Linked DNA regions of Homo sapiens. The protein of the gene in region 3 interacts with the protein of the main gene of each other region in a biochemical or structural test. Each region holds a gene or a part of one and is shown on either strand. Other genes may lie near its edges.

Region 1 (8,038 bases), on a different chromosome or scaffold from region 3:
TTTTGAGGTTAAAAACAATATAGGTATTTCCCTGTAATATAATTGGCTTTTCTTTGAAATTATATGCTGACAAATGCATGACATATGCTGATACAGCAATGACAGGTCTGCCCCCCAAAATATATGTAAAACTGGTATGGAAAAGAACAAATGAACAGTTACATTCCTCTAGTTTCTTAAGGAGTCTACAGTCACATGTTTAAGATGAGAAAAATAATAATTTCCTTTGAATTTTCCCCCTAATATTTAAAGTTATCCAAAGAGTCCCATGGACAGTCACATTTCAATCAGTAAGATTCACAGATGATAAAACACAATTCAAGAGTTAACAACGATAGCTTTGGAAGCTGCATTCACTCCTCCAGCCTTATGTGACCCCTTAGAATGGCTTCAGCAGATTAAATTGCTTCCAAGATACTTGAGTTTAGGCAAAGAGAAAATAAGGAGAACCAGTAGAACTCTGACAGTAGGTTTTCACTGGGTATTATCACAAAATAAGTAGATGTATTTTGATAGTATCCAAAACTTTAAAAATACTTTGGGGACTTGTAGAGACTGTATTATCAACAAAAGCACTGCTTTTCTTTTCTTGCTTTGTATTCATTCCTCATCTTTTCTTTATTTTTAAATTTGGAGACACAGGAATCAAACAAAATTGCCCAAACTTGAAGACCTCTATAGCAGCACATTCAAAACATAGCATACCTGTTGGTGAAGTTTCTCAATATTTTTCATTAATAACATGCTCTTTGATTTAATGAAAAGTAGAAAATATTTCACATACAAGCATGATTGAATTTAGGTAATGACAGCAACAAAAACTTTGATGTGTTAATGCTGATTACTGTGGGTATATTTTATCATGCTAATACAACTTAAAATTTATGAAATGTGTTATTACCCGTAATTGTCTTTTATTGACAAAATAAGTGCAAATATATGGCAACATCTTCCTAAAATGGGTTTGTAACTAGCAAGTGATCATTTGCACATCTGCCTTTTCTTGTTCTTACACCTTACAGCAACATAAGCAATAAAATGAACATTATGTGTCTTCATCAAATCTAAACAAGCTCTTTAAATGTACATAGGCTAGGTTTATCTTAGCTAAGTGGAGCTGAAAATAGAAGAAAATGTTTGCAACATTAGACCCAGAAAAATGCAAATTGAATCCAATTGAGTAAAATTCAGTTTTGATAGAATTACGTGTTTCAACGTTCAGGTTTGTTTAGTCCCTTGATTAGTATAGACCTGGTCTTAAAAGTAGAATTGGCCCAAGGCACAGAGTAAACAGTTGTGTATATTGGAGGATTCAAGGGGACCCCCTCTCAAAGTATGCATCTCACTGGTTTGCCTTTGTGCACTCTTCTCTATATGCAGGGAACTTCCCTGTAGTAGTAACAAAGTTGAGGGCGGTACTGCCAAAGGAATGCTTAAAATGCATGGATGCCACCTGACAGTAGAGAGATGTTCCCGGTCAGGGTATTGTATAAGAAGAACAGCACTTCCTTCTTTTTCCCTCTTTGCTACGCTATTAAAAATCAGAGTATCAATTTAATTTCTTCTCACTGTGGATGTTTAGAATGTTCAGAGATGATACAGAAAACAGAAGTCTGAAGGCCTATGAGAAGGGAGCATAAAGCTGTGCAGCTGGTTTCTAGTTAGGTTATAGAGAGTGGGCCCGACACTTGACTATGTAGTACATAGCACTAGGGAGAAGGGTTCCAAAATGTAAGAAACTATCGTGGAAATGTCCTCTGAGCCATGTATTCTGGTGAGGGCTTGACAAATAGAAACTTAAAAAATGAGCCAATAGAAACAAATTTCTGAAAAAGTTCATTTTGGGTACAAGAAATAGGGAAGTGAGGCCGCATGCAGTAACTCACGCCTATAAAACTAGCACTTTGGGAGGCTGAGGTGGGAGGATCACTTGAGCCCAGGAGTTTGAGACCAGCCTGGACACCATAGTAAGTAAGTCCTCATCTCAAAAAAAAAAAACAAAATTGCTGGGCATGTTGGCATGCACCTATAATCCCAGCTACTTGGGAGGCTAAAGTGGGAGGATCACTTGAGCCTGGGAAGCTAAGCATTTTGAGCATTTGCTTTAGAATCATGCCATCTCGAATTTAATTCTTGCCTCTGACACTTAGAGCCCTGTGACCTGGGGAAAATGCTTCAAAACTCCTGAGGCTCAGGCTCTTTCTCTGCAATGGGACTTATCCTAGGTTGACTAGGAATTAAATGAGACGATTTCTGCAAAGCACTCAGCAGAGTGCTTGGCACATGGGGACTGCTCAGTATATGTGACCTCTTATTGTAATGATGAGGTATGAGGTGGCTGTCTAGTCTATTTTTTAGCAGTTTTAATTGGCACTACCTAGACACTTTCTTGCATTATTAGAATATGTATGAACAATTTTCACAAACCATCAGAATCTCCACTCAGATTGAAATCCATCATTGCATGGCTAAATTTTCCTTCTTCATTCTGTTTAACTGCCAGTTGCTGAGTCAGACTCTCCAGTGTTGTTTTTTCCTTTAAAAAAATTATAATGAGAGATCAGTCTAGGAATTAAAATTATTTGAAGACTTTCTTTTTTTGGGCCACATATATAATACATTAACTCCTGGAAAGGATGCAATGTTGATATATTCACCTTTTTACGTTCAGCACATTAACCTGAAGTCATTAAGGGGATGATCAGCACGATTTTTGAAGGAACTCTGATTCTCATAGACCCCTATAAAGTCTTGGCGTTTGGGTTTGGTATGCCTAAGGGATATATGCCGGGATCCTTGGAGACAACCTTCCCAAATTACAAAATGTGCACAGAAATTTCATGGAAGCAACCTGTTTTACATTTGGAATGTCTGCTTTATTTTTGGCCAGACAGTAGAAGTATAGGAGTGGCGTGAAGCCCAGAGAAAGTCTTCCAATAGTCAGGTGACCAAATAATAGAAACATAATTCACAGTAGTGCCCTCTGGTTGCCATCTTCCCAAATGCCATCTGCATTCCTCATGCAAGGGTAATGAAGACGTTTAAATATTCATTGCTAATTGCTTGTCAAGTCTCTGTACATCCAATGTGAGTGCCTGCTACTTGGACCACAATTTGATTTGGATTGCTAAGCCAAAATATTGAGTTGGCGAATTATTTGAGATACAAATATACCAAAATTAGATCTACAGAGACATCAAGTTGTTTAAGCATGCAGTGCACGATTCACATTCATGGAGAACATAGCATTTCAAAATAAATTATTTTTAAGAAAAATATAATGCTTAATCTAAACCATATGAGACATTACTGTCAAATTAAGAAACTGGGTGACTTTAGGAACAGAAAAAGCATATAATGAAACTTGATAACTTTCTCGTGAACTCTCCAGCACTGCTCTGAGGATGATGTAGTACCAAACAGCACCAAAACAGTTTTAAGAAATGCATCCATTGGATCTCATAACATTATCTCAAGTTTCTTTATAATTATTCACCTCATTTTCTGAGGAACATAGTCATGAATCATACTAGTGAACGACATACACTGCAGAACTGCTATTGACACAATAAAATGTTCACAGAAAGTAATCAATGATGTAAGATAATTGTATTACAGGTAAAGGGCCCAACTAATGTTCCCACCAAGAACTAATGAGATATTGAAATTCTTAACACAGTACATGCTTTATCTCAATGAAGTCTCTGACAATGTGACAACTGTACATACTAAATTAAAAAATCTCTTAAGTCAGTGGCCTTGGAACTCCTGTACTCTATTCATCAAATTATGTACATTATTTAATAGAAAACTATTTTTAAATTGTCAATCAGTATAAAATACAGTAGAGAAACTGGAGACAAAATAGTTTATATTAACTTTAGTTCTATAGAATTAAATAGTATTAAAGTTGAAATAAGTTACGCATTTAAAACTGTAGAATCTGACTCGATTTGTTTTGTGTGTGAAGTTGTTGTTTTCAGCTGCTTCATATGTTTTGGATGTCTTTTGCTGAGAGAGTCGGCTGTATATATTCAGCTGAGCTCAGGAGCATCAAGGACACCAGCTTAACAGACTTTCTTTACAGTAAATGTAGCTGTTAAAACAAAAGACAGTTACATTTGAAAACACACGCACACATACACACATTCCATCAACATGATCTGATAGTCCTCGGGTCAATGAAGACTTTACTGTACTCTCTTTGAGGAATGTACGGGGCTTGGATCACCTCTTAGCTTTTGATTTAACAGTATAGGGCAATAATACTACACATTTTCTAGAGAGTTTTCCATTCTGAAGCAAAGTCTTTCAAGAAGAAAAAGCAAAATTAATCAAAGTAGAAAAAGAACGACACGTTAAGTGACTTCCAAGGTTCTGAGTTCAGCTCTACAGATGCTGTGCTGTCTTACCAAGAGACTAAAATTAACAAATATGAGCAGGAAAGTCACACTCAGTTTTTACAATAAGTAACCTATAATTATCCACCACTAATGCACCCAATATTAATAAAATGATTCAGTTAGCTACCCAAAAGTAAAACTTACTATGCTTCTCAAGAGGACGTCAGTGGGACATAGTGGAAGTCAACACAGTAAGCTGTACTTTCTCGTAACCCTTTGTATAGTAATTTAAGCTAACAGACATGAGAACAGGCAAAAGGAAAGGTGATTGCAGGAAATGGAGAATGTGAGGTATGCCTTTAATTAAAACAGATTATAACAGCATGCAAATCAAAAGGATAACGTTGCCACATTTTTTTTAAAAAAAGTGTGGACAATAAATTCAGAAGAAAAAGAAACTGATGTGAGGAGACAATAACTTAAGTAAAAAATAATTGTCCTATAATTCCATATGACAACTGATCCTATAAAGCTGACACATAGTACTTATGTATAAAAGTAGATATAAATTTATATGTGGTTAGGTGTCTAGGTAATATATTGAACCACCAAAAGAATGAATGGGATTTAAGAATAGTTCTCAAAAGTTTAAATTCAATTGAATGGCATATAGGAGGGGAAAGACTCAGCCAAATGTTATAAAGCAGAAGTGCTGACACACTAGAAAAATCTCTCCTACTCTATCCTTTTAATCCCACCTGTCTCCAGCCATCCCCTCTCTGAAAGAGTTCACCTATGCACTATCATGTATAAAGCTCAACCATTTGAGGTTCTGTTCTGTGGGTTAAATATTTCCTTTTCTAAAAGTGTTTTTTCATAAGAGCAAATACTACTGGAAAAGGTAATATTTTGATTCTCAAATTTCTTATAAATAAATTACTCTTTTCTAAATAGAGGCAGATGGAACAAAACAAGGACAGTAGATTTCAGGTAAGCAGAGGGTTAAGTGGGAAGATGTTGAAAATGGGAAACACCAAAGAAACTGATTTTGGGAAAACAAATAAATGTTGATGGGCACAAGTGACAATTTTTTACCGATCTTATAATCTGATAAAAATCATGTTGGTGATATAGATCTTATAATCTGATAAAAATCACGGCTCTGATAAAAATCATGTTACTCAAGAGTTTCTGCAGAAAAATAGCATCCCATTCCCCCATTTAAAGGTCACCATTCTGGAACACAAATCCAGCACAGCACTTAGGAATGCTGATATGAAAATGACAAGATTGATTGGTCTTCTCTCCTTTACCTTCTTTTTACATTTTTATACATTTAAAGGAATACTCGCCAGAATTCTAAATGCGCTGAATGATGTCAGAATAGAGGGCAAAAAGAGATTAATTACAACAAAGTAGTCAACATGTAAAAGTCCTGGGGTATGGGCCAAACAAGATGACCTGTATGCTTTCTCTCTTGAATAAAAACTAGCAATGGGATAACAACTAGATTCCTTTGCAAAGATGAGTCTTATCTGCCTAATCACATCTTTACAACTCTGCAGGTTTGCTGAGATCAAGGAGAAACATTAGGTTAAGTCTGTTTAAAAACAGACTTGAAAAAATCTTCTGATTTTATGTTGACTTGAAACAAGATCGAAGTGAATTGTATCTCATCGACAGAAGACAGTTGTAGACCACATGGTTTCCTGGGTGCAAATGAGTAACTCCAAAATCTGACATACAGAAAACTATTATTAACGTATTAGTATTCACTTGGGGAACTTGGTAGCTGGTCTTGTGCTCTGTGACTTATCCAGAGACTTGCATAATGCAAAACAGCATGTGTACTGTTTGCACATAATCCCAGGCTATGGTGGGAATCTAAAAGGGGAGCCAAGAAATAGCTAAAGAGATATGGACACTTTGTTGATTGGAGGTGGTCAGTATCAATTCATACTTCTAAGCCAAAAACCATTCTGAATGGCGAAAGGCCACAGGGATTCATGGGAAGAGGACACTTTTGAGGTTAGAAAATAATGAGTTTTGGCATCAGGAATATCATATTTTAATCAAACTCTCTGCCGTATATATTAGCCATACTGCTTTAGACAAATATGTTATCCTCCTCGAGTCCCAGAATCCTAATTTGTAAAATGATAGTTAAACATGTGTTAGATTCTCATTAGTTTGAAAATTTTAAGATAGATATACTTTTAATATTATTTTTAAAATGTCAGTGGGGAAAATTGAAAAGACAGGGAATCTAACATGTGAGAATTACAGAAATAGTTAAATTTCAGTATTAAGTAGCCTGTTATGATTATAAACTCTATTCTGTATAACCAAATATGCACTAAAAAAGGGAATTTTAGTAACAACTCTAAATATTCTCAGAAATTTCCCCTCTTTGTCTATCATTTACAATATATTCAATCATTGTTTTTTATTTCAATTTCATACTCAGGCATGATGAGTTACAGTTCCAGACTGTAAGTCTAGTACATATTTAAACTGAAAAATTTTCCCTGCTCCATTATTTTGACTTAAAAAAAATAAAAAACAACTGAAAATTCACTATTTTTGCAAAGGTTCTAATAGGCATCCTATGTTGATATTTTACAGAGCAGTCAAAACAAAAGAACACACAAACTGTACTTTAGAGGTAGATATTTCCTTAGTTACCTAATCCTAAATTAAACAGTGCGTGAGTAGATAAGTCATCTATTACTCCCTGAAACTGGGATTCAGCTAAGTGATGAGCTTCGCTCTCCACCAGACACACATACACAAAGAGATAGGCTATGGATCAGCTATCATAATGGACATCCCTGAAATAAAGCTCACAAAGCTATAAAAGTCATAAAAAGCACATGCATGAAATGACAGAATAGAGTGTGACTGTCAAATGTTGACTCAGTAACAGTTAAACCTCTTCTGGCTGCACTTCTTTATGGTCTTCTACTATATTAACGACACGGGAAGAAAGAAACAAAAAACCCTCCAATTATGTGAACCTCACAGACCACCAAAGAAGATGAAAGATTACTTATAATGTCATAACGATTTATCAGTTGGAGATTTTTTTCATCAGCTTAAGTGTAAAGAAATAAGGCGCATGTCCACTCTTTAACCTCTCGTTTCACTCTTGCTTATTAATATCTCAATTTTTTTAGAAAATAATCATCTACCCACATAATATAACACCGAAAATGGGAGAAAAGGGTTTCTTGTAAGTTATGTATAAATGATATATAAACTATATGTGTGTGCACACACATACACACTCACACAAATACACACTTTCCTCTAACTCTAACAAAAGTACATGTTGAAGAGATCTGTCACTAATTTTACCTCCATCAAGTATGAATTTATCCGTGAGAATAGCCATAGACCCTTTGGTATTCTGGAATTTAATAATCCTTGAAGAAAATTTTTCTATTCATTTTCTCCATTGAGAATTATAGTGAGATATGAACTCAGGGGATGGAAAGGTCCATATACATCCTCTGGTCTAGGTATCCACAAAATCTGCCTTATCTAATACTGATTTTTTTTTTTCCCTTTCTGAATTCCCTCATGAATTGAAACCCATAATTTTGTTCCAGAATCTAATTTCCTTTTGTAAAATTTGGTAGCTTGCTTCATGAAAAGTTGCTTGTATAATTCTGACTCAACTTCTTAGTAGGTTA
Region 2 (8,038 bases), on a different chromosome or scaffold from region 3:
CAAGCTAGGCCTTTCCAGGCGTGGCTGCTAAATGCGGGACCTGACTTCGGCCTCCACCATGCAGAGCTCCTGCTGCCACCGTGGGCAGTGGCCCTGCAGTGGTTGTGGTGAAGGGGGTGGGGGCAGCTATATTGAAGTGGGTGGAGGGAGCTATATTGCTGAGACGGAGCCTCCCTGAATCTGGCATGTGTCCTGCCTCTTCTTTTAGCACTCACTGGGCACTTGCAGAAACTCCAGGAGGCCCTGCCCTAGAGGAGCCCACAGTCTGCGAGGCGAACAGAACACAATTAACAGACAGATGTATGAAGTGTGCAGAGGCCAGTGCTGGGCTCTCACCGACGGCCTTTGAGGCAGGGGCTGCTGAGAGGTCCATGTGCACCCTGATGTGCAAAACTAAGCGGCAGCCCCACGTGTCCAATACAGACCAAGCTCCCAGCCACCCCTCAGCACCCCAGCCTCCACCCAGGGAAGGAGGCCACCACCATGGTAACAACCAGGTTCTTGGCTGCTTCTGAGCCTACCATGGAGACAGGCAGGCTCTCAGGAACCATGGCTGGATGAACACTTCCATGAAGCCGGCGAGTGCTAACGGCCGGGGAGGTGTTCAGCATTTACTCTCAGTGTGGAGATCTGGGACGCTTCTCAGAGGTGGCGGTGCATGAGTAGGGCTCTGAGGGATGGGCAGGTGGGACGCCATGAGAAGGGCACCTCAGGCAGAGGGCGTGGCCCAAACAAAGGCCTGGAGAGGGGACCATGCGGGGCCATGCTGCTTACCGTTCTGCTTGGCTGTCTCGTAGTCTTCCTTGCACACCAGCCGCCCGTCCTCCATGAGGTAGAATTCGTCCCCCGTGGCCAGCTGCCGGTTGCAGATGATGCAAGCAAAGCAGTGCAGGTGGTAGACAAAGTCCTGGGCCTTGCGGACCACCTGGGTTGGGGGGATACCCTGCTGGCAGGCCGTGCATTTTGTGCCGAAGCGCCTGTCAGGGCAGCAGGAAAGGATTAGGGCACACAGGGAGCAAGGGATCTGGCTTCCCCCAACTTCCTGGAGCAGCCTCCCTCCTACCCCACCACTCCGGGACTCCATGAGCCTCACCCCCCAGTCACCCAGAGCTTACCGTCTGGTCCTCTCTGCCTCCATCTAGCTTCATTGCTTTGTGCCTGGGACTCTTCAACCACCAAAGAAGGGACTGATGAGAACTAGAGTCTCCCTCAGGTACCTTTTCCAAAGCTGATGCCCCCGGATTCCAGCTGCCCGATTAACACCCATCAATTCACAGGGGGAGCAGGTGGACTTTCTAAGTCCCTCAAAGCAGGCTGTCTCCCCCTCCACCTCCCAGCTTCCTCACCCTTATGGTTGATCCCAGAGGACATCCTCACAGGGAACTGTGTGTGCCACAGGCTGTGTGTAGAAAGCACCCAGCAACACCTTTTCACACACTCCCAGGGAGGAGGCCCTGCCTGGCCAGGGGACAGCACGCTGCAGAGAAAATGCACTTTGTCAGCAGAGCAAGGCTGTCCTGACAGCTGTTCTCTCTCCTTTGCCTCCATTTCTCCCCTCACCTCCATTCTGCACACACAAAGCCCTCCAAGCCTACCTCCATCCCCTTCCTATGCACGCACACAGCCTGGGGCATGGTGGTTTGGGAAGGGCCCAGGAAGCTGCACTTTTCAGCCCCTACAGCATTCGGGACAAGGAGTCTGCAGATTACAGTTTGGAAAATGCTGCTTCAGACCTCTCCTTGGTCAGCACCTTTCCAGAACAACACCGAGGCAAAAGGAAGCTACCTGCTGCCACCAAGGCAGCTTCTACCAAGCAAGCCACCCCCTGCCAAGGCCGGGAAGGAAGGAGAAATTGACACTTAAAAGTATCGTCCAGTGGGGTTGTTTCCACTCCCTTTCCCCATTCTGGTCATAGAGATCAACAGAGGCACACCGATGGTCATAGGAGACGAGGGAAATTTGGGGGCCGACAGGGACAGTGAAGGAGGGTGCGTGGCTGCAGGTGAGCCTTCCCCGCTTCAGGAGGGAGGCGGGAGGCATTGGGAAAGCAAGGGCAGAGTTTAAAACAGCAATCAACCTAATTATTCATGACATTTCACACAGCAGAACTTTATCTTCTTCAGGATGAAAGACTTCGCCTAATGGATCTGGGGAAGGTTTGATTTTAATGGTCCTTTTAACTAATGCTTATAGGCAGCCTGATTTCCCCTGAAAGGACAGTACATATTTCATCCACATTAATACCAAATAAATTAATTATGGTCATGGCTATCATGATGAATACCAGATTAATGCAGAATGATAGGTCTGTTATGCAGTAATGATACCTGCTGAGGGGGTTATGGGGGCCCGGAATAGGCATGGCCAGCAGCAGCCTCAGACGCCCCCCACCAGGGACACAGCATCCCAGAGAAAAGTGGGGGTTCTCTAAGTCTGCATGGGTAATCCTGAAAGACCCAGAGTGTACTTCAGGGAACACTCTTCTGAGATGGGTATAAGAAGGGTGTTGGGGTGTGAGGGGCTGAGAGGTGGTGGCTTGGGAGGACCCCAGGCTTCTGAATTCCTGGAATGCCTCTTGGTTTTCAGAGAGATGGGGCCCATTTAGAGCAGGAGTTCTCTGCGTGAGGGTCAGCATAGGCCTGTAAACCACCTGCTAAGTTGTTCAAAATTGTGCCTCAGGAGGGGACCTGGGTTTTCATCAGATTCTTAAAGGGATTCAGGACCCAGGAAAGTAGAGTTAATATTTGTTGAATAAATAAATCAGCAGATAAAGCACCATACTTGTAGAGGATGTGCACGGAGATGGCCGAACCTGAGGATGTAGAACAAAGCACACAGTCGGCTCTGGATGGTTCTAGACCTCCCAGAACACAGGTGAGAACCAGGTCCTCCACAACTGCTGTGTAACCACATCACCTGGATCAAAGAGGAAGGCTGGCAGGCACCCACCTCTACTGTGTGTGTGTGTGTGTGTGTGTGTGTGTGTGTGTTATGTGTGTGTGTATAACAGAGAAAGGAAGCCTACACATGTGTTACTAGAGAGTGTTTTCAAAAGGCCTGTATATTTAATATCCAATCCCAGCCAATTTGCAAAGCAGGTACTGAAATGAAACAAGGCACCAGGTGTGGTGGCTCACGCCTGTAATCCCAGCACTTTGGGAGGCTGAGGCAGGAGGATCACTTGAGCCCAGCCTGGGCAATATGGTGAATCCCTGCCTCTACAAAAAATGCAAAAAATTAGCCGGGTGTAGTGGTGTGCACCTGTAGTCCCAGCTACCTGGGAGGCTGAGATGGGAGGATCACCTGAGCCCAGGGAGGTTGAGGCTACAGTGAGCCAAGATCACGCCACTGCACTCCAGCCTGGGCAACAGAGCGAGACCCTGTCTCTAAATTAATTAATTAAAATGAAACAAGGCTTTCATCATGCTTGTTGCGAACCCTCCCAACAAACCACGCAAATCTGGAGAATGTGTCCTAACCAGAGATCCAAGGAGAGGAGGGCTGAGAGGAGACCCCGGAACAGAGGGAAGACCCTTCAGCAGCCTCCTCCACAGGGGCCACACTCTCTCCCACTAAAAAGCAGGCAGGGGGCTTTCAGTCACCGGAGGCCCAGCTGACACCAGCACACCAGAGACATGAAAGATAACGGGGGTATAAATTTAATCTACATACCGACAGTGATTCATGCATGAGGGTGGCAAGTGCACAAGAAAAATGAAAAATAAGTGGACTTCCCCACCAGCGTTTTTTAGCAATTGAAGCAATTTTCCTGATTGTGGGATTTATACTGAAGGGAAGTGGAAGTGGCTCCTCATTACCTTTTCCCCTGGAGCACAGCCAGCGGGACCCTTGCCGAGGGAGCCGCATGCAGCACCTCCTTGGCCCACAAGGCTCCCCCGGCCCAGCCCAGCCCTGCAGATCACCCTCCACCCCATCTCCAGTCAGAGCCAGTGTATCTAGAATACAGGGCATCCTACAGGGGTGTGTCTGTGATGGAGACACTGTCCCCATTCCCAGATCTTAGAATAGCCAGAGTCACAGGTGAGAAGGCCAAAGCCTGGCAGGTCACATGACTTGCCCTGCGACAGGCAATAATGAGACACACGGTCATGCCTAGAATTCCCTGGCCCCACACGAGGTAAAACTGTGAACCCGGCTGCTACACAGAGAACCAGAAGTCTAACCAACTGGACCAAATATGAAGGACGCTGGGGTAAAGAGGGAAAGGCTGGACTCCAGCCAAGGAAGAGGGCTCCCAAGGGCTTTTCCAAGCAGCACCCCTTAACACCGATCACCGGGCACCCATGCAGGGGCACCAAGGGCACTGGCCTCACCCTTCAGAAAGATAAGCCTGCTGCCCAGTCCTGCTAGCCAGGCCTCTGGGGACAACCAGTCCCCCCAGGAGAGCAGCTGGAGCTGATCCAAAACCACAGAGAAAATGCAAGGAAGACTTGCTAATGGCTCATATTATTTTCATCCTCTAACCAACACCACTGGAAATTGTCTTATCCCTGCCCAGCACATAGTAGGCAAGCCACAAAGACCCAATGAATGAATGAATGAATGAACGAATGAGCAAACGAATGAGTGAACGAACGAACTGCTTCTTAAAACATTTGCCTGAGTAGTCAGGGGAGGCTTGGCTCTCCATAATGGCAGCTCTTTTCTTTTCTTTTTTTTTTTTTTTCAAGTTTGGTATTAACTTTGTTCTATTTTTGGTCTAACTTTAAGTACCTAAAGATTTATTTCCACAGGCCTCAGAAAATGGGTAGAAATCACAGGACAATCCCTCTTCCCACCAAAAAAAGTTGCATACTTTGGTAAGTGTTTATCCTAGAGGGAAAAAGCTGAAATTTACATTAGCAGTGCTGTGCAAGATTCTGACATAAATCACGACCTCAAACCAGCCTGCAGTGGAGGTTCTAGTCTTCTGTTCAGGCACTTGGACAGAAGCCATAGCTGATGAGCATGACAGGGAAAAGGAGGCAGTAAAGACAGGTGACAGGCACCTTGTAGGGAAGGAGGATTCAGGAATGCCAGGCTCCTTGGAATGGTGTGCTGTTTTTCCTTTTTTTTTTTTTTTTTTTCCTTTCAAAGTCATCTCTGTAGGAAGGTGCTGGGCAGCGATCCCAGAGAAAGAAAGGTCCAAGACTCCTTTAACTGTCCTGGATGAAGGGCAGTGCTACAGCAGCTAGTACCGGAGACTCTCCTATCTCATGGTTGAGGCAGACCCAGGATAGAATAGAGAATAAAAGGAATGCTTATAGGAAACCATTTTGCATGGAATGCTAGATGGCCAAGCCTCAGCCTTTGGTCCAGTGCAACCCTTGCCTCACTTGTCAACAGTGAAAAATTAGTTTGGTTAGAGGAACCATCTGGAAACACACCAGCTTCTGCTAGCTTCATGTTCATTGCTAGAAAAAGATTAACCAGTGTGAACATTCTGATCTGTTAATTCCTGGGATTGTTTTCTTCCCGAAGGACTGTTTGTTGGTAGGATAACCCCCAAAAGCTCAAAGCTAAAATGCATCATCAGTCCTGGTTGGCAGTTCCTTAAGAATGGACTGGCGGCGTGAGCGAGCTGATATGGACAAGCTGCCCCTTCCTGCAGAACATCAACTGACCTACTATCTCACCCCAAATCTCTGCCTGAGGTATATTTCAGTGAAGGCAGTTAGTTGTGCTTCTCAGAGCAGAGAAGCAGTTTTAAGCTCTTTTCTTTAGGGGTGAGGGGATCTCACTCGGTTGCCCAGGCTGGAGTGCAGTGCCACAATCATAGCTCACTGCACTCGAACTCTCAGTCTTCCCACCTCGGCCTCCTGAGCAGCTAGGATCACAGGCACATGCCACCATGCCCAGCTCATTTTTTAAGACATGTTTTGTAGTGATTGGGTCCTACTATGTTGCCGAGGCTGGCCTTGAATTCCTGGTCTCAAGTGATCCTCCCACCTTGGCCCCCAAAGCACTGGAATTACAGGTGTGAGCCATCCCCTTTGCCTCTGCTGTCATTAGCTTCCCCTCTGCTGGCTCCTTCCATCCATGTACAGGCATGCTATGATCCCTGCCTGCCTCCCTTCTCTACCGCCCACTCCCCGCACCCTTCAGGGCAGCGCCCCACTCATCCAGAGCTGTGCTGCAGCCCAGCGGTCAGCTCCCCTCTCCCCGGCCTCCCGAGCCTCCCGACACACCTGCTCGCCGCCTCCTCCCATCTTGGCCCCCAAAGCACTGGAATTACAGGTGTGAGCCACTGTGCCCAGCCAAAAGCTTTTCTAAGAAGGGCATTAAGTCCCGGGTTGAAATGAGGCCCATGGTTTACTAAACCACAAGACTTTACATCCCACTTGCTGTCGCCATCACACTGCCTCCAGACTGTCTCCTGAGCTCCTAGCCTGAAAGGTGGGTACTGTGACACCTTTTAACAGATAAGAACTGGGGCTCAGAGAGGTGAGGTGCCGACCCCTAGCTCCCAAGGGCAACGAGCGAGAGAACCGGGGTTTGCAGTCGGTGCTTCTGACACAACACAGCGGACATGCGGCGGGCTTCAAGGGCAGCAAACCCGGCCTTGGTGCCCTGACCTAGGCTGGAGCTCGAGGAGAGGGCCTGTCCCCCTCATGTGGCTCTGAGCCCCCTGCATGAGGCTCCCAGCCCTGCAGTGCTGGGGTGGCCAGGGAAGCCCTCACCCCCCAGTGTGTTAACCCCAACACATGTAATTGGCCCGCTGTCCACCTTCCACATCCTCCGGCTGGCCCAGGTGTGGGCAGAGAAGAGCTGAGACTTCTCGGCTGACTCTCATGGGCCACTCTGGACCCCAGGAGAGGACTAGGTCTTGTGTGCTGGGTCCCAGCCTCTGCACCTGAGCTCCGCCTGAGCTCCTGCTGCTGTTGATTTGTCCACCCCTGCTGCTCCCGACCACCTGGCTGGGCTGCTCACCAGTGCAAGACAGGCTTGAGGGTCTGGACCCTGTAGAAAGGGGGCAGCAGGCAGGCCCTGCAGGGACCGAGCCTTCTAGAACCAGGGGTGCATAAATCCTACACCCTGGCTGTCTGGCACATTCCTGATGGTAAGTTCCGACCTCTGAGCAGACCCGCATGATGTACCACAAGTGGGTCACTGAGACGCTGGTAATAAAGGCAGCTGCCATTCTCCTAGCACCAACCTGTGTCCTGTGCAGAGTGGGCCCTGCACATGTGATCTCATCCGACCCTCACCTCCAGCCCTCAGCCCAATGCCCCGGCACTCACCCCGTGGCTGCACTGCCACCCTGCTCCACTTGCTTCCCGCCTGGGTGACTTAACTCAGGCTCACCCTCACTCCCACCACACCCTTGGTGACTGCAGTCCCCACATAGACCATCCTTCCAGGCCCTCCCTCTCAATTCTTTGACCTCCTGAAGGCTGTGGCCTCTACCCTCCCTCCCACCGCTCACTCCCCCAGACCTTGTTGTTACCAGCAACTGCCACAGCTCCAGGGGTCACTTCCAACCCTCCCACCATTGGACCCCGCTGTTCTTCCAGCTCCCCAGGGCACTGACTCACACAACCCAGGGACTGCCCTTCCCCTTGGGCTTGTCACTGTCCCTCGCTTCCCTCCTTCCTTACCCAGCAGACCCCAGGGCGATCCCACCTGTCCCTCCCCACACACCCTGGACCCTGCCCTCTCTCCGCCCTGCGCCTGCCCCACCCCAGCACGGGCATCCACAGAGCCAGGAAAGCAGCCCCTGCCCACCGGACTGATGGTGCCTCGGGGGCCGGGGGTCAGAATGCACCTCCCACCCGCTCCCCCACTGAGCCCCAGGCTCAGCTGCTGGCGCCCTCCCATTTCCCATGGAAGAGGGAAGCCCGGCTTGGACCCTCCCCACCTCCCACTGTGCCTTCCACTCGCACACCCGGGGCCCCAGCCCCTGCCTGCCACCCACAGGTGAACCATGCACCTCCACCAGACACAGCTCATTCCTTCTCACGTAATGAGACTCCCAGCAACCATCCCCTTTGCCTTCTGTGTCATTAGCTTCACCTCTGCTGGCTCCTTCCATCCATGT
Region 3 (8,038 bases):
AGCTACTTGGGAGGGTGAAGCGGGAGAACTGCTTGAGCCCAGGAATTCAAGACCAGCCTGGGCAACATAACCAGACTCTGTCTCTACAAAAAAATTTAAAAATTAGCCAGGTGTGGTGGCATGCACCTGTATTCCCTGCTACTCAGGAGGCTGAGATGGGTAGATCGTTTGAGCTTGGGAGGTCAGGGCTGCAGTGAGCCGAGATCGCACCACTGTGCTCCAGCCTGGGCTACAGATGACAGTCTGTCTCTAAAAAAAAAAAATGTTTCCAGACATTTCCCAATGGGTGAAATCACTCCTGGTGGGTGACACTGGGTTAGGGAGTGTGTGGGGTGTTTTGTGTGTCTGAGAGCGTGTTATTGCATGCATGTGCATGTACCTGTGTGCTTGGTGGCATGTGCGGGTGTATCGGTGCTCATGTGTGTGTTTTGGGCACTGACATTATGACTGAGTGTGTGTGCTGTGTGTTTCTAGCTGTGCCTGTGGGGCTGCATTTGACGGTGGCAGAGCCTGTGTCTGTGCTGTGTGCTTCATGGCATGTGATCGTGTGACTGCGCGTGTCCCGTGTGTCTGCACCCACATGCACGTCCCTGAGTGTGTAATGCCGCATCGATGTGTTCGGGTGTGGCCGGGTGCCTCAAGGTGTCTGTGAGTGAGGGCAAGATTCTTTGTATGGGGACGCCTGTGTCTGTTTGATTGAGGGAGGTGCAGCATGCCAGTGTGTGTCAGCGTGATTCTTTGTGCCCGCATGTGCCAGTGAGAGTGTGTGACTTTGTGTGAGATGGACCCGGAATAAACCCCCCCCCAACTCCCCAAGATGATTCGACCGAAGCCGATATTTGGACGGAACCACCTGGATAATTTGGAACCCATCCCTAGCTCCTGCCTGCCTTGGACTAAAAGGCCCAGGGGGGTCGGGTGCACCTCCATGCTGTCCTTTCCTCCAGCTTGGCTCACACAGATTCAGGTGGGGACAGACAGATCCCCGCTCTTGCCCGATCTGTGCCAGGAAGGCTGGCACTGAGCTTCAGCTGAGGGGGCAGGGTCCTTGGCGATGGTGGTGGGCACTGCCCCCTGCCCACTGCTGGCCACCACCCCCGGCTCCCCTCAGGGTGGGGCCCAGTGGGGGGAGAGCTCCCCAGTGCAACCCCGGCTTCCGATTGGCTGCAGAGCGCCGCAGTGCCCGCTACCCGCCTCCCCTCCCTGGCTGGCGCAGCCACATCGGTAGTGGTGGCAAACGCAACTTGGAGTTCTGGGCACAGCTGCGCCTCACAGAGGCCTGCCAGCCCCACCAGAAGCCAGACACCCCAGCTCCGTGCCCCCGACCCCTCCCTGCCCGCCCGCCCCGCCGGGCAGCTCAGTCACCCTGCCCATTGCCTCCCTCTGGCTGCCAGGCCCTGTCCACCCTGTTCCCTCACCCGCCAGGCCTGTGCCCCCCTGGCCAAGCCCACTCAGGGGGCCCAGGCCCCTGCACGAGGCCACTCCCGCCCTCAGAGGGGCTCCTCGGGAGGGGGGAGGTGGTGAGGAAGGGGGGGTTGGGGAGCTAGCCCTTCTTCCTTTAGTGAACGCGCCCAGAGCTGGAGCCAAAAATCGAGGAGGAGAGATATTCAGACGGAGCCAAGACGCGTTTGGCAGGAGGAGAGAGAGAGGGAGAGAGGGAGCGGGAGGAGGGGAGGAGGGGAGGAGAGAGGGAGGAAAGAGAGAGAGAGAAAGGGGGAAAGAAGGGGGGACCTCAGTTTCCAAATCCGCGCCCTCAGAGCCTCGGAGGGATGGCGGGTGGCCCAGGGGTGTGGGGCCCAGGGCCTGCCTGGCTGTGGGGGCAGCGGGGATAGTGGGCTCAGGCCCACGGAGACAGCCGGACACCCAGCTGGCCAGGCTAGAACGGACACAGGCAGAAGCCAAGATCAATGTGCGCCGGGCAGACAGAGGGAGGCCTGTGGGCGGCCCGAACACACGCCCGCACCTCGCTGCCGCACAACGGGCTTCTGTCCACGCCAGGCCAGGGGCACGGGCGGGGCCCCCAGCAAGGCCACTGCGGCCGCTCAACCTCATGGGAAGGGACTGAGCAGCCAGCCCGCTCCCAGCCGCTTGCCCGGCCGCCATAGCAGGCATCTCACATGGTGCTCGGAGGCCAAGGGAATGCCCAGGAGAGGCGCCCGTGGGGTGAGACCCACAGTGATTGTCACGGGGACAAGCTCAGGAGGCACAGTGATATGAGGGTGATGACACTGGAGACACGTGCGTTGACACGTATGTGGACACAAGTTGACACGGACAGGCCAACACGTGTGTGAGACACACGGATACACTCTTTGCCGTGACGCACAGACACCCAGAAAAACACTGCTGTAGATGTGACGCATGTCGCTGGGACACTGTCACCCCAGATACAAAGCGCAGATACAAAGATGGTGACCGGTACACCAATACCCGTTGACGTGCGCAGCGCCACCGTGACACAGAGACTACATCCGGCACACTGACACGCATGGTGGCACGCTCCCCGACCCCCACTACCAAATACACAAGAGACAGGGCGTGCGATGATCCGTGGAGTCACATGCAGGTAGCACCCAGTGATGGACGCTGGGAGACATGGAGAGGCATGGAGAGGGACCCGGGCAGACACACGCTGCCACACAGACATCCTCGGGAAAATGGTGGCTCTGAGGCCTGACATGCCGATTAACATGCACACCGATCTGGGAGAACCCAGATAGTGGCTCACAGCTGTCCTCCTGGCCCACTTGCCCCCACATCCAGGGCTTTGGGGGCAAGAAAATTAAGACACCCCCCTCCTTTTCCCCACCCCAGCTGGGAGGGAGGGGACAGAAGGCCCATTCTCAGCACCGTGTTGGAGAAAGTGCCCAGCCTCCCCTACCTCTCTGGTCCAGCAAGTCCCCAGATTCCAGCTTCATGGGGGTGGGGGAGACAATATCTCAGCAGATTTAAAAGGCCAGGCTCCCTGTGGGTTAGATGGGGAGGACGGCAGTCAACACACCAACCACGGGGGCATTTTGCCCACAGCCACGGCGCCACGGCCAAACACCCAGCATTGCTCCCACCCGCAATGTGCCCTGATCCAGCCAAGTGCCCACCATAGGGTCCTGCACATATGTCCTGTCTCCATGGCGGGTCCAGGTGACAACGCCCAGGTGCAGACACAGAAAGTTCTGGAGCTTGGGGACGTCCCTGAAGTCATCATCTAGATGCACCGGGTCTCTTTGTCCCACATACATTTGGATGAATGCGTGCACACATACTCTTATACCAGGACTCAGGGCCCCCAACCAGGGTATCTGGTCCTCATGGAACAGTGGAGGCCTCGTCTCTCCCCTCCTGCCCCCCACTCTCCCCCACCATCTCTCCCCTATCTTGAAGTTGTGCCACCCTCTGCTTGGCCTACAGGCCCCCATCCAAAGGTAAAAGAGCTGGGCCATGTGCAAACTCTCATCCTTCCAAACTCTCCTCTTGCCTCCTCCTCCTCCAGGCAGTCCACTTGGATATCTATGGTTGGGAGGTGCTCGATCCTGTCTTCTACCCCTCAGAGGCATCCCTCTCTCAGCTGGGAGGGTCTGGGAGGTTGACAACCAACAATTGGCAACAATTACCATTTATGGAGCACACACTATGTGCCAGGCACCACATTGAACCTAAGTACAGCCCAAGAGATAGACACTGGTTTTTGCCCATTTTACAGGCCAGGAAAATCCTGTGCTTCAGGTCGCAAGATTAGAACATGTAGAGCTGGAGCTCGAACCCATTTCTGTCTGACGGCAAAGCCTAGCCCTTGACTCCGCTCCCGCAGCCTCCGTCTGGGAGCTCTTGAGGCTACACAAGACATTCCAGGCCCTAGAGAGACTGGAGCACCCTGTTCCCGGCAGAGCCCTCGGCTCTGAGCTCGGCCCAGCATCAAAACATCTCACGGAGCCCCAGCTCATCTCATGAGCTACCCCATCCCGGCCCACACCTGGGCACACCTCCCACCCCAGCAGTGGGCATGAATCAGGCAGGGCCAGAGCCGGAGAGAAAATGCCAAGTGCCATGAAAACAGGGCACCAGGCCGGAGCAGGGACAGAGAGCTATAGCTTCGCAGGGACAGAGGGGTGGCCAGAGTGACCCAGAGAGAAAGCTGGGGGAAGGGGGCATCAGGGAAGCCCCAGCCATCCCCCTCCCATGGAAGGAGTGTTGGGGGAGCTATGCAGATACAGAAGTACAGGAACGTTCGGCTGCTTGTATGGCCAGGAAAATGGGCGTAGGTCGCTGCGTGTCTGAGAGCGGGTGTATCCGTGTGTGCGGCCATGTATGTCTTTGTGTGTGTCAGCAAATGTCGGCATGTTTGCCTTTTTATCCCTGTGGCAAGGAGGGGGAAGCACGCATTGGTGCATATTTGTGTGTGTGTGTGTGTGTGTGTGTGTGTTTGAAAAGGTATTTGTGGCCGGGTGCAGTGGCTCATGCCTGTAATCCCAGCACTTTGGGAGGCCGAGGCAGGTGGATCACGAGGTCAGAAGTTCAAGACCAGCCGGGCCAAGATGGTGAAACCCCATCTTCACTAAAAAATACAGAAATTACCCGGGCGTGGTGGCGGGCACCTGTAATCCCAGCTACTCGGGAAGCTGAGGCAGAGAATTGCTTGAACCCGGGAGGCAGAGGTTACAGTGAGCCGAGATCACGCCACTGCACTCCAACCTGGGCGACAGAGCAAGGCTCCGTCTCAAAAAAAAAAAAAATAGAAAAAGAAAAGTTATTTGTGTACACACCTGAGCGAGCCAACTGCATTATGTCTCTGTGTAAAGATGTGTATCCATCCATCCGCCTGTCCGTCCTTGGGTCCATGTGAGCATGTGTGGGGGTGAACACACATTTGTGTCTACCTGTATCCAAGCATGTGCTCAGGGCTCCATGAGTCTGGGAGGTGTCGTGGTCTCCATGTGCCTTCGTCGCTATCTGTATCATCTCGAGGGGTTTGTGAGTGTTTATGTGTGCGCTGGGGGTGGTTGTGAACACAAGTCCACAGTTTCCTGTGTCCATACGTGCGTCAAAGAGGTACTGCTGTGTCGCTAAGCCTACACCAATATACGTGTCCCATTTCAAGAGGTGCGTGTGTGTTAATGGGTGTGTGTGACAGTGTGAACACAAGTCGTCGGTTTCCTGTGTCCGTAGGTCTGTAGGCTCGTCGATGGTCGTGGGTCTGGACATCGGTGTGAACAGGACACTTACATCCCCATCTTGGCGGTGATGGTGGTGTACGTGAGTTCACATCCTGGTTGTGTCTCTGTTTCTTGGCAGGGTTGGGATGGGGATGGGGGTCCATCCATCCACCCCCCACCCCTCTCTCCGCCTGAGACTCAGGACTGTGGCTACAATGGACTCCAGCAGCTCCAGGAACCGCCCCACCCGGCCGCCCTGAATTTCGATGCTTTTTCTAGAAGGAGATTTTTCCCCCCGCCCTTCCCCCTCGCCCACAGTACCTTTCCCCGCCAGGGCCCCGCTGCTCCAAGCTCGTTCCTGCTCAATCATTTATTGACTTTAAAATCGAAGCCAATTCTGGTTTGAAAAAAAGAAAAGGGAGAGAGAGAGAGGGAAAGAGAGAGAGGCAGGCCAGAGAGACAGAGAGAGAGAGAGTCCGAGACGCCAGTGGAGGGGGGAGCAGAGATGGGGCCAAAACTGGAATCAGAGACAGAGACAGTCAGAGACATACAAAAGGACAGAGATGGAGAAAGAGAGATGGAAAAGGGCAGAATACACCAGAGACCGATAAAAACAGACCGAGAAAAAGACAGCAAAGGAAAGAGGTTGTCATAAAAACAGAGACCAGCGGGGCAAACCATGGAAGCAGAAAGATTTGTAAAAACAGAGATGTGATTGTTAGGGAGGGGCAGGCCAGACCCCACTGACCAGCCGACAGCAGCCACCTGCCCAGAGCTGAAGGGTTTCCCTGCCCACCATGAAGGGCTGGCAGCCTGGAGACACCATGCCCACTCCCCTCTCCAGCCATCCTGGCACACTGGAACTGTCGTAACCTGGGCCTACAATCACACAGAGCCAAGCACCGGCCATCGCCCTGGGTCTCGCAGCCGCCCCAGCCCCTTCCTAGCCATGTCACCGGCGTATCCACAGGCATTTTCTCTCCCAGGGTGCTGTGAAATCTGAGGGGCTGGTGTCTCACCCAAGCCATGGGGGAGCAGGCTCAGATGTCTGGCGTGCTTGGCATGGGAGGCCGGGCTGGCAGCCTGGTGGGCAAGGGGCTGCTTGAGCGTGGGGTCTTGGTTCCACTAGGCCCCAAACATCGGCCACACAGCCCAGCCAAGTGTAGCACCAAAGAGGCCCAGCTCAGACACCGCTGGGTAGGCAGTTGTTGTGAGGGGCGCCCAACATGGAGTGGCCGTGGAACTGGAGGTGCAGATGTGGGGGTTCCCCACACTGCCATGGTGCTCAGGGTGCCTGCTCACACCTGCATGCACACTGCAACATGTATGCATGCCGGTGCGCCCTCGCCAACACGTACTTGGGCCTGCTTTCTACAGGAAAACCCGCTCCCTGGGCCACACACACGGCCATGCCACGCAGGCCTGCCCATGGCCGGCCCACAGGGGCTACACACAGACTCTAGATTGATTCACACTTGCATACACTCTCACCTGTGCATACAGGAGTGTGGTGTAGCCACAGCTGACACACACCCCGACAAACCCCTCGCCCCTTGACACCACTGCACACTCCCGGTAGGACCCAGACAAAGTAGGAGCCATACCCATGTGGACTGCCACTGTAAGCTGTGGACACACTTGGCACATGGCTGACAAGGATCAGGCTGGGCAGAGGGGACAATTAGGGCCTGGCCTAGAGAACCCCCACATGCAGGCCTGGCTGGCAGCAGGGCTAAGCAGCCCCTAGATGTCCCCTCTTCGGAGACTGTTACCAGCTGTGGCTTGGCCCTGCAGGCAACGCTGTCAGGGCCACTGTGGGACTCTGGGCAGCTTCTGTGCCCTCTTAGAGCCTCAGGCCACAGCCCAGGGAGAGTTGGGTGGCCCGACAGGCATCCTCGAAGCTTTTGCCGCAGCCGTGCGCCGCGCAGGGAACTTCGCTGCAGGCGGGACGCGCTCTAGCAACGCGCCAAGGTCGGCGCTGTTGTGCCCGAGGCTGACCCGACGGTGTGGCCGCAGCACTGTCGGCTGTGTCCACGGCTGCCTCCCGCCCCTCCCGCCTCCAGGCGACGGGACGGGATTCCCCAGGCCTGCCGGGTCCACTCCGCAGCAGCCCGGGTCGCTGGGGCCAGAAAGTTTGCGCCGAGGAAAGTTTGGGGGTGGGGGGGCAGAGGCTGCGACGTCCGGGGTCGGAGAGGCGCGGCCACCGCTGGCAGCGCGCCCGCCCCCCTCTCCCCTCCCCTGCCCCTCCGAAATTTGGGAGCCCCGCCATTTTCTTAGCCCCGCTCCCATGTGAGGCCTAAACAAAGACTTTGGGGAGACGCCCGGGCCGCTCGGCCCACCCCAGGCACCCCGGCCGCACGCAAGGGCCGCCGCCACGCACGCCGGCCACTGCCACCCTCGGGAACCGCTGCGCCCTCCCCAGGAAGCGTCGCGGGACCCAGTGTCCCCTCTGCGCCCTCGGGACCACCCTCTTGCCACTCTGTCAACCCCGCAAACACTGCCAGCGACCACGCTGCCCGGGTGCGCGCTACAGTAGCCCACAGGTCAGCCGGAGTCCCGCTGCCCATCGCACCCCAGTCGAGCGCGCACACACACACACACACACACACACACACGTACACGCACTCCCGCCTGCGCTCCACGGGCAGCGCCACGACGCAGCTGGCCACCCCCGGAACCCCCAAAAGGAGTCCGCCCGGTGGCCAGGGTCGCACGCGCACGGTGACGCCCGCACGCGTGCCTGGGCTCCCCGCGGCACAGCCTGCACCCCTCGGCGGCCCGCGGGCTCTCGGCCCCCCCTTCCCGGCCGCCGCGCGTCCCCTCCGCCCGCGCCGCCGGCCGGCCTCCCGCGCCCGCTCCCCTCCCCCGGTCGCGCGGGGGCGGCGGCC
Region 4 (8,038 bases), on a different chromosome or scaffold from region 3:
CCGAAAAAATGGTGTGGGCTGAGGGGAGCCGTGCCCCCCTTCCCCTATTCACTCGCTCCCCCGGAGCCTAATTAAATTTGGCAGGTCCTTGTACACACAATCAAAACAGCTTCCTCCAGTGTAGCAAACGACCGAAAACCGCATTAGCAGCTATCGCTGCTGCCAAATTAAATTGTTTCCCACCTCCTTTTACAAGTGTCTAAAACCGACACTCCGGGCTCTCCCCTCCTTTCCGATCCTTCCCCGTCATTTCCCACTCCACACCTGTAAGTTTGCTGCCTTAAAAATAAATAAAGGAAAAATACAAAGAGAAACAAATCTGCCTCACTCGCCGTCCTCGCCAATCCTCCCCCCACCTCAGATGGTCTTTCACACCCAGGAAGTCTGCAAATTCTCCACCTGGACTTTGACACCCCCAGGATTTCCCCCCCGCCCCGTCCCCTGGAGAAAAATGCTACCTCCACTACTACTACTTCTTTTTTCTAATCTTGTAACTTTTCCCTATATTTCATATTAATTGTAACCTCATTGGCCTTTCCATCCTAGAGAACAAAGCGGAGCCCCTGGTCTGATCCGGTCAGTTTTGGCTTAAACTGGTGCACTGTCAGATGCATGCGGCTTTGGTGTTCTTATTGTTTGTCACTGCTGTTATTGTTTTTTATACTATTGCTTATTTCTTCACACTCACTCCCTCAGCTCCCACTGAGGAACGGTTTGACCCATTGCAAACCCCTATCAAATTCCCCACAAGAATCTCTCTGAGCTCAGATTCTATGAAAATCTTTTCCTTTCTCTTCTCTCCTCAAATCCCCTCCCTGTTGGGTCCCCGGCCTGTCTATCCCCTGATCCTCGGAGAAAGGGGTGAAGAGGAGGGAGTCTAAGTGCATGGGGGCAAGGAACTGTCCACTTCCCTTTCCAGGTGAGCCAAGCTTGACTGGGGCAAGCACCTATCGGCAACGGTCTGAGAATACTCACCACCAACAATCCTAATAACTCAGTCTTAACAAGGATAAGAGCAAAAAAAAAAATATGAACAGCCTCATGAATATCAGCCCAAGGGGAGCAGGAGTGAGCTGTTCAGAGATGAAAGTGCACAGAAATAAAAGCTCAATTTAATCTGCTTTAAAACCCTTCAACTTAACGTTTGTGCTTCAAACTCTGAGAGTGAGAACTGATTGCGGATAAATAGTTTCTTACCATGCCTGGAAGCTATTACACCCCTCTCCAACACAGTTTCCTATTCAGCAGTCCCAGTTTTCATTACCAGCTCTAATAAGTCTTAACATTATTAAATGCCAAGCGGACGATAGGAAAAAACGGACTCAGGGAGGGATCTCTCTTTAGTGCTTAAAGAGGAGAGCTCTTAAACCCCTTCTTTGGTGGCTCCCTGCCATGAGAGGGGCAACTCCCCCAGAGAAAGCATTTTTCAAGAGCAAGAAGCCAAAACAAAGTTGTGGGTGTGCACAACTCCCCCTGCTCTGGCCATGGGGCATCTCTGCCTCTCCCTACCTGGATTACTCGGATGGAGATTGGAAGGTCTTTTCACCTTTAACTTGGACATGAAACTGATGTCTGGGGCCTGGAAGAGAGATGAGGGGTTCACAGGGGTGCCTGCCGACCAGCCCAGGAACTCAAATAGGAAACGGATACAATTTGCTCACAGATGGATAGATGGCCCTCTCTCATCTGCACCATCATATTGCCCATTCACACCCATCTACACACTCCCTGCACATCTATGCTGAATCCCATTTGCACAGATATATGGCCTACAGCATTCAGATCAGAAGGCCCGTGGGTAAACAGTCACACTAAGAGATGCTTGCGCTTACACAGCCATTCAAAGCACAATCAGCGCACCCAGCACACCCACTGTCACGCAAAAACTGCGGGACTTTCTGGAGACCAGGCTCACTGCATAAGATCATTTCATTTCTTCAGCTCCTCTAGACTTAGCACCTGTGTCCTCAGCCTCCCCCATCTGGCACAGGCTCCACTTTAAACCCTTGGAGACGTGGTTCTTCCTGGTTCTGCTGCAGGGAAAACCTCTATCCAGCAAAGTGGCTTGTTAGCTGGTGTGGTGAGCACAGGCCAGCATGGAACGCCCCGCATTCCCTGGAATCAGAGGAATCCTCCAAACCGCACGATCTTTCCATCCTCTTCCTTTCCTTCCCTTCCCTTTTTTCTCAGAGGAAATTTACCTATTTGTGCTTCCTCACAGATTGAACTGGATATACTCCCTGCGTGCAAACACAATTAAAGTCTCTCCAAGGAAAACCAAACCTCCTCTGCTTCTCCCTGGGATAACCTCAGAAGAGTTGTTTGTTGTGCAGGAAAGATTATTTGTCCAGGAAAGATTATTCGAGTTCTATGCCTCCCCTCCACAACCCACAAAAAGTCCATCTAGTCTCCTTCCAATGGGAACTGAAATAAGGACTGGGTCCCCCGGCAGGTGTCCCAGGGCTCTGGGCCGACTGGCCTAGCCAAGGACCGCTTGGCAGTGCAGGGCTGCCTCCCGCCGCAGACCCGTGGCCCCTCGGCAGGCCGGGCACAGCGGGGCGCCCGGCACAGCTGGCTCCCTTTCTTCCCTCGCCCTTTTGTCCCGGGCGGGACTGCGGCATCACTAGGGGCCCTGTCTGTCAATGGCCGCCCCTTCCCTTCGCTCCAGGCCGCTGTCACACGGGGCTGCCCGGCCACCCATCCTTCCTCCTCGGACCACGCCTGTGGGGGCTGGGCGTAGATGGGAGTTGTCTTAGTAAGCCGGCTTTGTCTGTGAAGTTCATCTTCAAGGTTGGGAGGGTCTTCTGAGAACTGGAGAGAGACCTGGGCTAGGAGTGCTTGGGTCGTGAGGAGAGGGGTGCTGGGAGAAACCTCTGAAGGGAGACTGAAACAACACTGGCTTTTTGCAAGCTTTCAGGTTCCAGGGCACTCGCCACTTTTTCCAAAGCCATCAGTCTGCGGGTTCCCATGGCCACTGTCTTTCCGATTCCCTCAGCCTGCCGCCTCTCCGCGTATGTGTTTGGGGCCTTTTCTTTAACTGTCAGTCTTTGTGACTCTGGGTCTTCCATTTCTGTTTCTCTCCCTGTCGCCCCTTAACGTGCACTTACCAAGTCTCAAAGAGACTTAGGAGGGGAATTATGAGGGCAATGAGGAAGGGGAGGGGGTAATGAGGAAAAACTTTCCCTTCCTTCTCTCGAAACTTCCTCCCGTCAAGAAACAAAAGCACAATCCCCTTTCCCGGGCTTCCGGGCGCTTGAAAACTAAACGCCCTCCTTAGCTGATCCTGAGAAAAAGCATGGCGCAGGACTCAGACTCCAGCCTGCCCGCGGAAGCCGTGCTAAGAATGGGGAGAGGGTGTGTGGAGCCTGGGTCTCTCCCCCACTGCGATCCTCCGACCCTGGGCATCTGGGAACTTGGCCTCCACTCCCAGCCCTGCCGGCGCACGCCACAGAGGAAGGCACTCTCTGTCCCCCAGTCCGCCCTGGCAACGCGGGGCTGAGTCAGGCGGCGGCCCTGGCTAATTTTTATTGATTGCAGCGGTCAGTCAACTGTCAGGCGGGGTTTCAAGGGACCGTTTAGAGAGCGTGTGGGGGTCTGGTTAACAAATTCATTTAGGGAGCCGCGGGCCGGCTCCTCCTTCCTCTCTCCCTCCCTCCCGTCCCCCGCCCCCTTGCCCAAGTTTCCTATAAATAATTGATCGACGCCGAGAGTAGCAGCCAAAACGCCAGCCCGGGAGGACGCACTCCCCGCAGTATTGGGGTAGACCAGGCGCGCAGCCCCGCAGCCGGGCTCTCCCGGGACTCACAGGCCGTCCGTGCCCGGCCTCCATAGCGCAAAGAAGGCGCGGGCTTCGCATCTAGCCGGCATCCGGGGTGCGCACCGAGGGGGCGCTGTCGGCAAAGCCTGAGCGGCTCCCAGCTGCCCCGCAGCATGAGAGTTTCTCCGCTGGAGTTCTGGTCGCCTGCTCCGGCGGCGGGAGCGAACCACTGGCCCGCACACCGGAGCGTGGGAAAACCCGGGCTGGGGCCTCGCAGCCCAGGGAAGTTCCCTACCTTTGTCGCCCAGGATGCCGTCGATGCTGTGTTTGGCCTTCTTTTCGCCGTCGTCCTCCTTCTTGTCCGCTTCATCCTCCTCCTCTTTCTTCCCGAACTTGATTCTGAGCACGCGGCTAATCGAACTCACTAAACCTCAGAAATTCAAAGGCAAAAGAGCAAGTATAAGTTGTTGGAGCAGAGGAGCGAGCGGTGGCCTGGGCCCCTGGGAGAAAGTCAGGAAGCCCCCTGCTTCCTTACAGATATCCATTCATCCCTCTTCCACACACAGGCATTTAGGCATTGACACGTACTCCATAACCAGCATCCACTTGGAGAAGCCTGACTCACACCCCGGGCACTCACAGGGTGGTTAGACTGTGCATTTCTATGCAGATGCTTGCATGCATTCGTGCCTTACACTAACACCTGCCTAGGTGCACTTCCACCCACACCCCCGAGAGGTCCCAGGGCCTCTCTGGAGTCTCTCCAGCTCCTGCTGCCACTCCCACACTCAGGTGTGCATTCTGGCCCTGCGTGCCTGAATGCACATGTACACACACACACACACATACACACACACACACAACAGATCACTTTCTCTCTCACAGGCAGTATGGTTTGGGACCTCCAAATTTAGGACTCAAATGGCTGGTGTTGGCGACAGCAGAAATCATAACTCTGAGACGGTGGTCTAGGGAAGCCCATGGGCATCCACCCTCCTAGGACAGATCCATCTATTGAAGCCATTTTCTCCGAAAAAGCCTCCAGGGGGGCTCTCTTATCATCCAGCTTTCTAGGTTAACTTTTTGCCCATTCCTGCCTGCCCACCTGCCTGCCTGCTTTCCTTCCTTCCTTCCTTCTTTCCTTCCTTCCTTCCTACCTTCCTTCCTTCCTTCTTCCTCCCTTTCTTATTTCTCTCTCCTTTCTTAACTTTTTTTCTTTCCCTATTCCTTCTTTCCATCTTATTCCATTCTGTTTTGATTTACTCCTATGCCTTAACTCTGCCTTTCTGTACTCCTTTCCTCCCAACTTCTCAGTAAGTTCACAGTCAGCCATCATCTCCTCTCCCCTCTCTCCCACCTCCAGCCCTCCACACTGGACCCCTGGCCACACTCTGGGCCAGCTCTGCCGGCTCAGCTGCCTTCTCACCTGAGGGCACAGTGCTTCGGTCACAGTGCCCATCCTTCAGCAGCCTGTCCCGGATCTCCCAGCTGAACATGCCTGGGTTTTCCCTCTTGTACTCCTCAATCTTTTTCTCTACATCCGGAGTCGCCACCTGCTTCAGAGGTGGAGGTGGGAGAGTAGGAGTGGAAAGATGGGATGGGGGGAGGAAAATACTTTTAATATCACCTCTTAAGAGCCCCAGACCAGGCTGGTGGTTCTGGTTACCTTGTGTCCCCCCATCCCCCAAGAGATTGGCTTTATCCTTTCAAGAAACCGGTTCCTGGCTCCCAGGAAGGCAGCTGGGGGTCTGGCCAGGTGGGGTGGGGTGGGACATGGATAGGCAATAAAAAACTCTAATTAGGACCCCCAGGGTCCCCGTCATTATCTCAGGAAAGACTGAGAGAAGATGTCTTCTGGTCTTGGAAGGTGACAGGGGTTGAGGCAAATGTGGGGACAGTCCAGGAATGGCTCATTGGCCTCAAGGTCTTGCACAACCTAGACCTCACTTAGCTCCATCTCTGAGAAATTCAAATAATAGGAAAACAATGGGAGGACATCTGGGAGTAGAAGACACCCTCCAGCTGTACTTTCCTACAGCCTGGTGCCACGAGGTAGTAAGAGGGGCCACAACCAGGAGCCCCCGACTATAGGAAGCCAGCTGCCAGCCTCTGTGGCAAAGACACTCACTCTGGGCTTGCTGCCGCCGATGGCCCCAGGCCGGATGGACCCGGTCTCCTGGTAGCGGCAAAGAATCTTGGAGACGCAGCCGTGGGAGACACGCAGCTGTCGGGAGATGACACAGGGCCGGATGCCATGGTGGGCCATCTCCACTATCTTGTGGCGGATGTGGTTAGGCAGGGGTCGCCCATTGATGAAGACCCCTCCCAGCTGATTGACCCGGCCTTGGCCAAGCGGGGTGGACACTGGAGAAGGGAGGGGAGATGCAGAAGGAGAGAGGTGCAGGGTGAGGATGGAGAGCAGACACTGAGTACACTCCCTGACTCCAGTTTTGTTTGTTTGAGCCCCAAGACCTCAGACAGCAATCCCGGTGGTCCTCACACTGGGGCTTCGGTAGGTAGGTAGTTTGAGAAACAACTGTCATAAATCTAGGAAATCTCCTGCAGAGATGGATAGAGGAGTCACAGCTGCAAGAGTCTCCCCAGATGCTGTGTCCCCCAACTCCTGCCACACTACGAGGGATGAGGACACACCTGGGGGATTCGAATGCTGCTAAGAAGGGGAGGGAGAGAGATGAAGATGAGACTGCAGACAGAGCCACCAGGCTGGTAGAGCCTTAGAGATCTTGGGACCAATGACTATCTGTCCCTCAGGCCGAAGCTTGGGCTGCAGGCCTGCCTGCGTCTTGGAGAGGCCAATAACGGGTGTGATGTGGCTCATCTGCTCAGTTCTACGCTCCTGGTAGTCATGAATGATCCAGTTTGTTGGGGGCTAGAAAGGCCTGGCTGATTACTACATTTACAGCTCTGGCTAGAGCCGTGGAACTGTCCCAGGGAACAGCTGAGGCACAGCCGAGGGACGGGTGACATATGCTGTTGGCTGCTGCCTCCAAGGGCACCTGGTTGTCCCTTGGGTGACTCTCCTTGCTTCTAACCACCCTCGAAGTCCTAATTTCGTTTTGGGACAATTTTAGGACACTACTGCCCCAAAGCTCCTAAATTAAATAGTCGACTTGGCCTCACAAATCCATGAACTGTGCCTGCAGGCTCTGCGAGGCTGGTAGGCAGATGGGACACAGTCCCCCCGGGTGGGGGTGACTTTGGGAACCGGGAAGACAGGCATCACTGGTGTGTGCTGGGGAGGGGAGAACGCCTGGTTGCCTTAATGCAAAGTCTACACAATTTCCTCACAGAAGATTGGGGGGACACCCAGCGCACTAATCCGGCCTCGATCCCCCCAATTTGGGGACTCAGCGGCTGCGGAGATCTGGAAGATTAGAACGATTTCACAGCCGCGGGAGTGGAGGGAGCTGACTGTAATTGAAAGGGAGGAGGCGAGAAGAGGCTCCGCTGCTGGGCCGTTCCTACCGCCCCCTCCCTCGCTCTCCCGGTCCCCCCACCTCTCTTTGTAAAAGTCGGTGTCTGAAGCCACTCTCGGATTTAATCAGAAATCGTGCGTCGCAAAGTCGGAGTCACTCGGTCTCCGTGGCGGGATATGCCATTAGCGCTCAAGAGCTCTCGAGCGCCCAACTTTATATTCAAGAGCCTCTTTAGCGACCGGCACTCGGCTCTCCTCAGTATTCTGCGTCATGTTGGGCAAATATTGTTCTAATCCGCCGCGCGTCCTCAGCCGCCTGTTTTACTTGCATTCGCTACAGGAGAGTGCCACTGCAAATCCCCGGGTTTGCGCGCTCTCCCGCCTGCGTGGCTGCCGGCGCGCACTTGATCACGGAGCCGCTCTCTTCGCCTCTGTCTAATTCAGGGACCCGGCGCCGTCTCGCTGCCCAAGGGAGCTCCTCCCGGATCGCAGGCTGCCAGCCCACCCACCCCCTCCCTGCCTCCTCTCCCCTTCCTCACGCGCCAGGGACTCAAACGATCACAGGAAGAGTAATTTAAAAAAAAAAAGTCGCACATATTTCTAATGACTTCTCTGTGACACCCTAGGCTACCTACCCTCAGAAGCCAAATGATCCCTCAGTGACAGGTTGAGGCCTTCCATTAGTTTAAAAAGAAAACAGAACAAAAACACAGGAGCGGGTCTCTCCGCTGTGCGCTCCCAGCCTTTTCTCCAGCCAGGACCCGGTTCGCCGCCGCCCGTCCTATCGGGTCTCCCCGGGCGGGCGCTGGATGTTTAGGAAGGACGCTTTACAAAATCAGCTCTTT

What was found.
Region 1: the proteins of NFIX (region 3) and SOX5 form a complex in vitro, tested with the Homo sapiens proteins (one study listed by BioGRID).
Region 2: the proteins of NFIX (region 3) and LHX4 form a complex in vitro, tested with the Homo sapiens proteins (one study listed by BioGRID).
Region 4: the proteins of NFIX (region 3) and PAX7 form a complex in vitro, tested with the Homo sapiens proteins (one study listed by BioGRID).

Annotation. Positions count from the first base shown.
Region 1 is NC_000012.12:23,543,889-23,551,926, forward strand, and holds part of SOX5 (transcription factor SOX-5), read right to left. Parts: intron 2,537-8,038; coding exon 2,428-2,536; intron 1-2,427.
Region 2 is NC_000001.11:180,259,331-180,267,368, reverse strand, and holds part of LHX4 (LIM/homeobox protein Lhx4), read right to left. Parts: intron 1,167-8,038; exon of another isoform or gene 1,139-1,166; coding exon of another isoform or gene 1,116-1,138; intron 978-1,115; coding exon 775-977; intron 1-774. UniProt on the Homo sapiens protein: May play a critical role in the development of respiratory control mechanisms and in the normal growth and maturation of the lung. Binds preferentially to methylated DNA.
Region 3 is NC_000019.10:12,995,870-13,003,907, reverse strand, and holds part of NFIX (nuclear factor 1 X-type), read right to left. Parts: intron 1-8,038.
Region 4 is NC_000001.11:18,632,386-18,640,423, reverse strand, and holds part of PAX7 (paired box protein Pax-7), read right to left. Parts: intron 6,122-8,038; coding exon 5,886-6,121; intron 5,314-5,885; coding exon 5,184-5,313; intron 4,188-5,183; coding exon 4,053-4,187; intron 1-4,052. UniProt on the Homo sapiens protein: Transcription factor that is involved in the regulation of muscle stem cells proliferation, playing a role in myogenesis and muscle regeneration.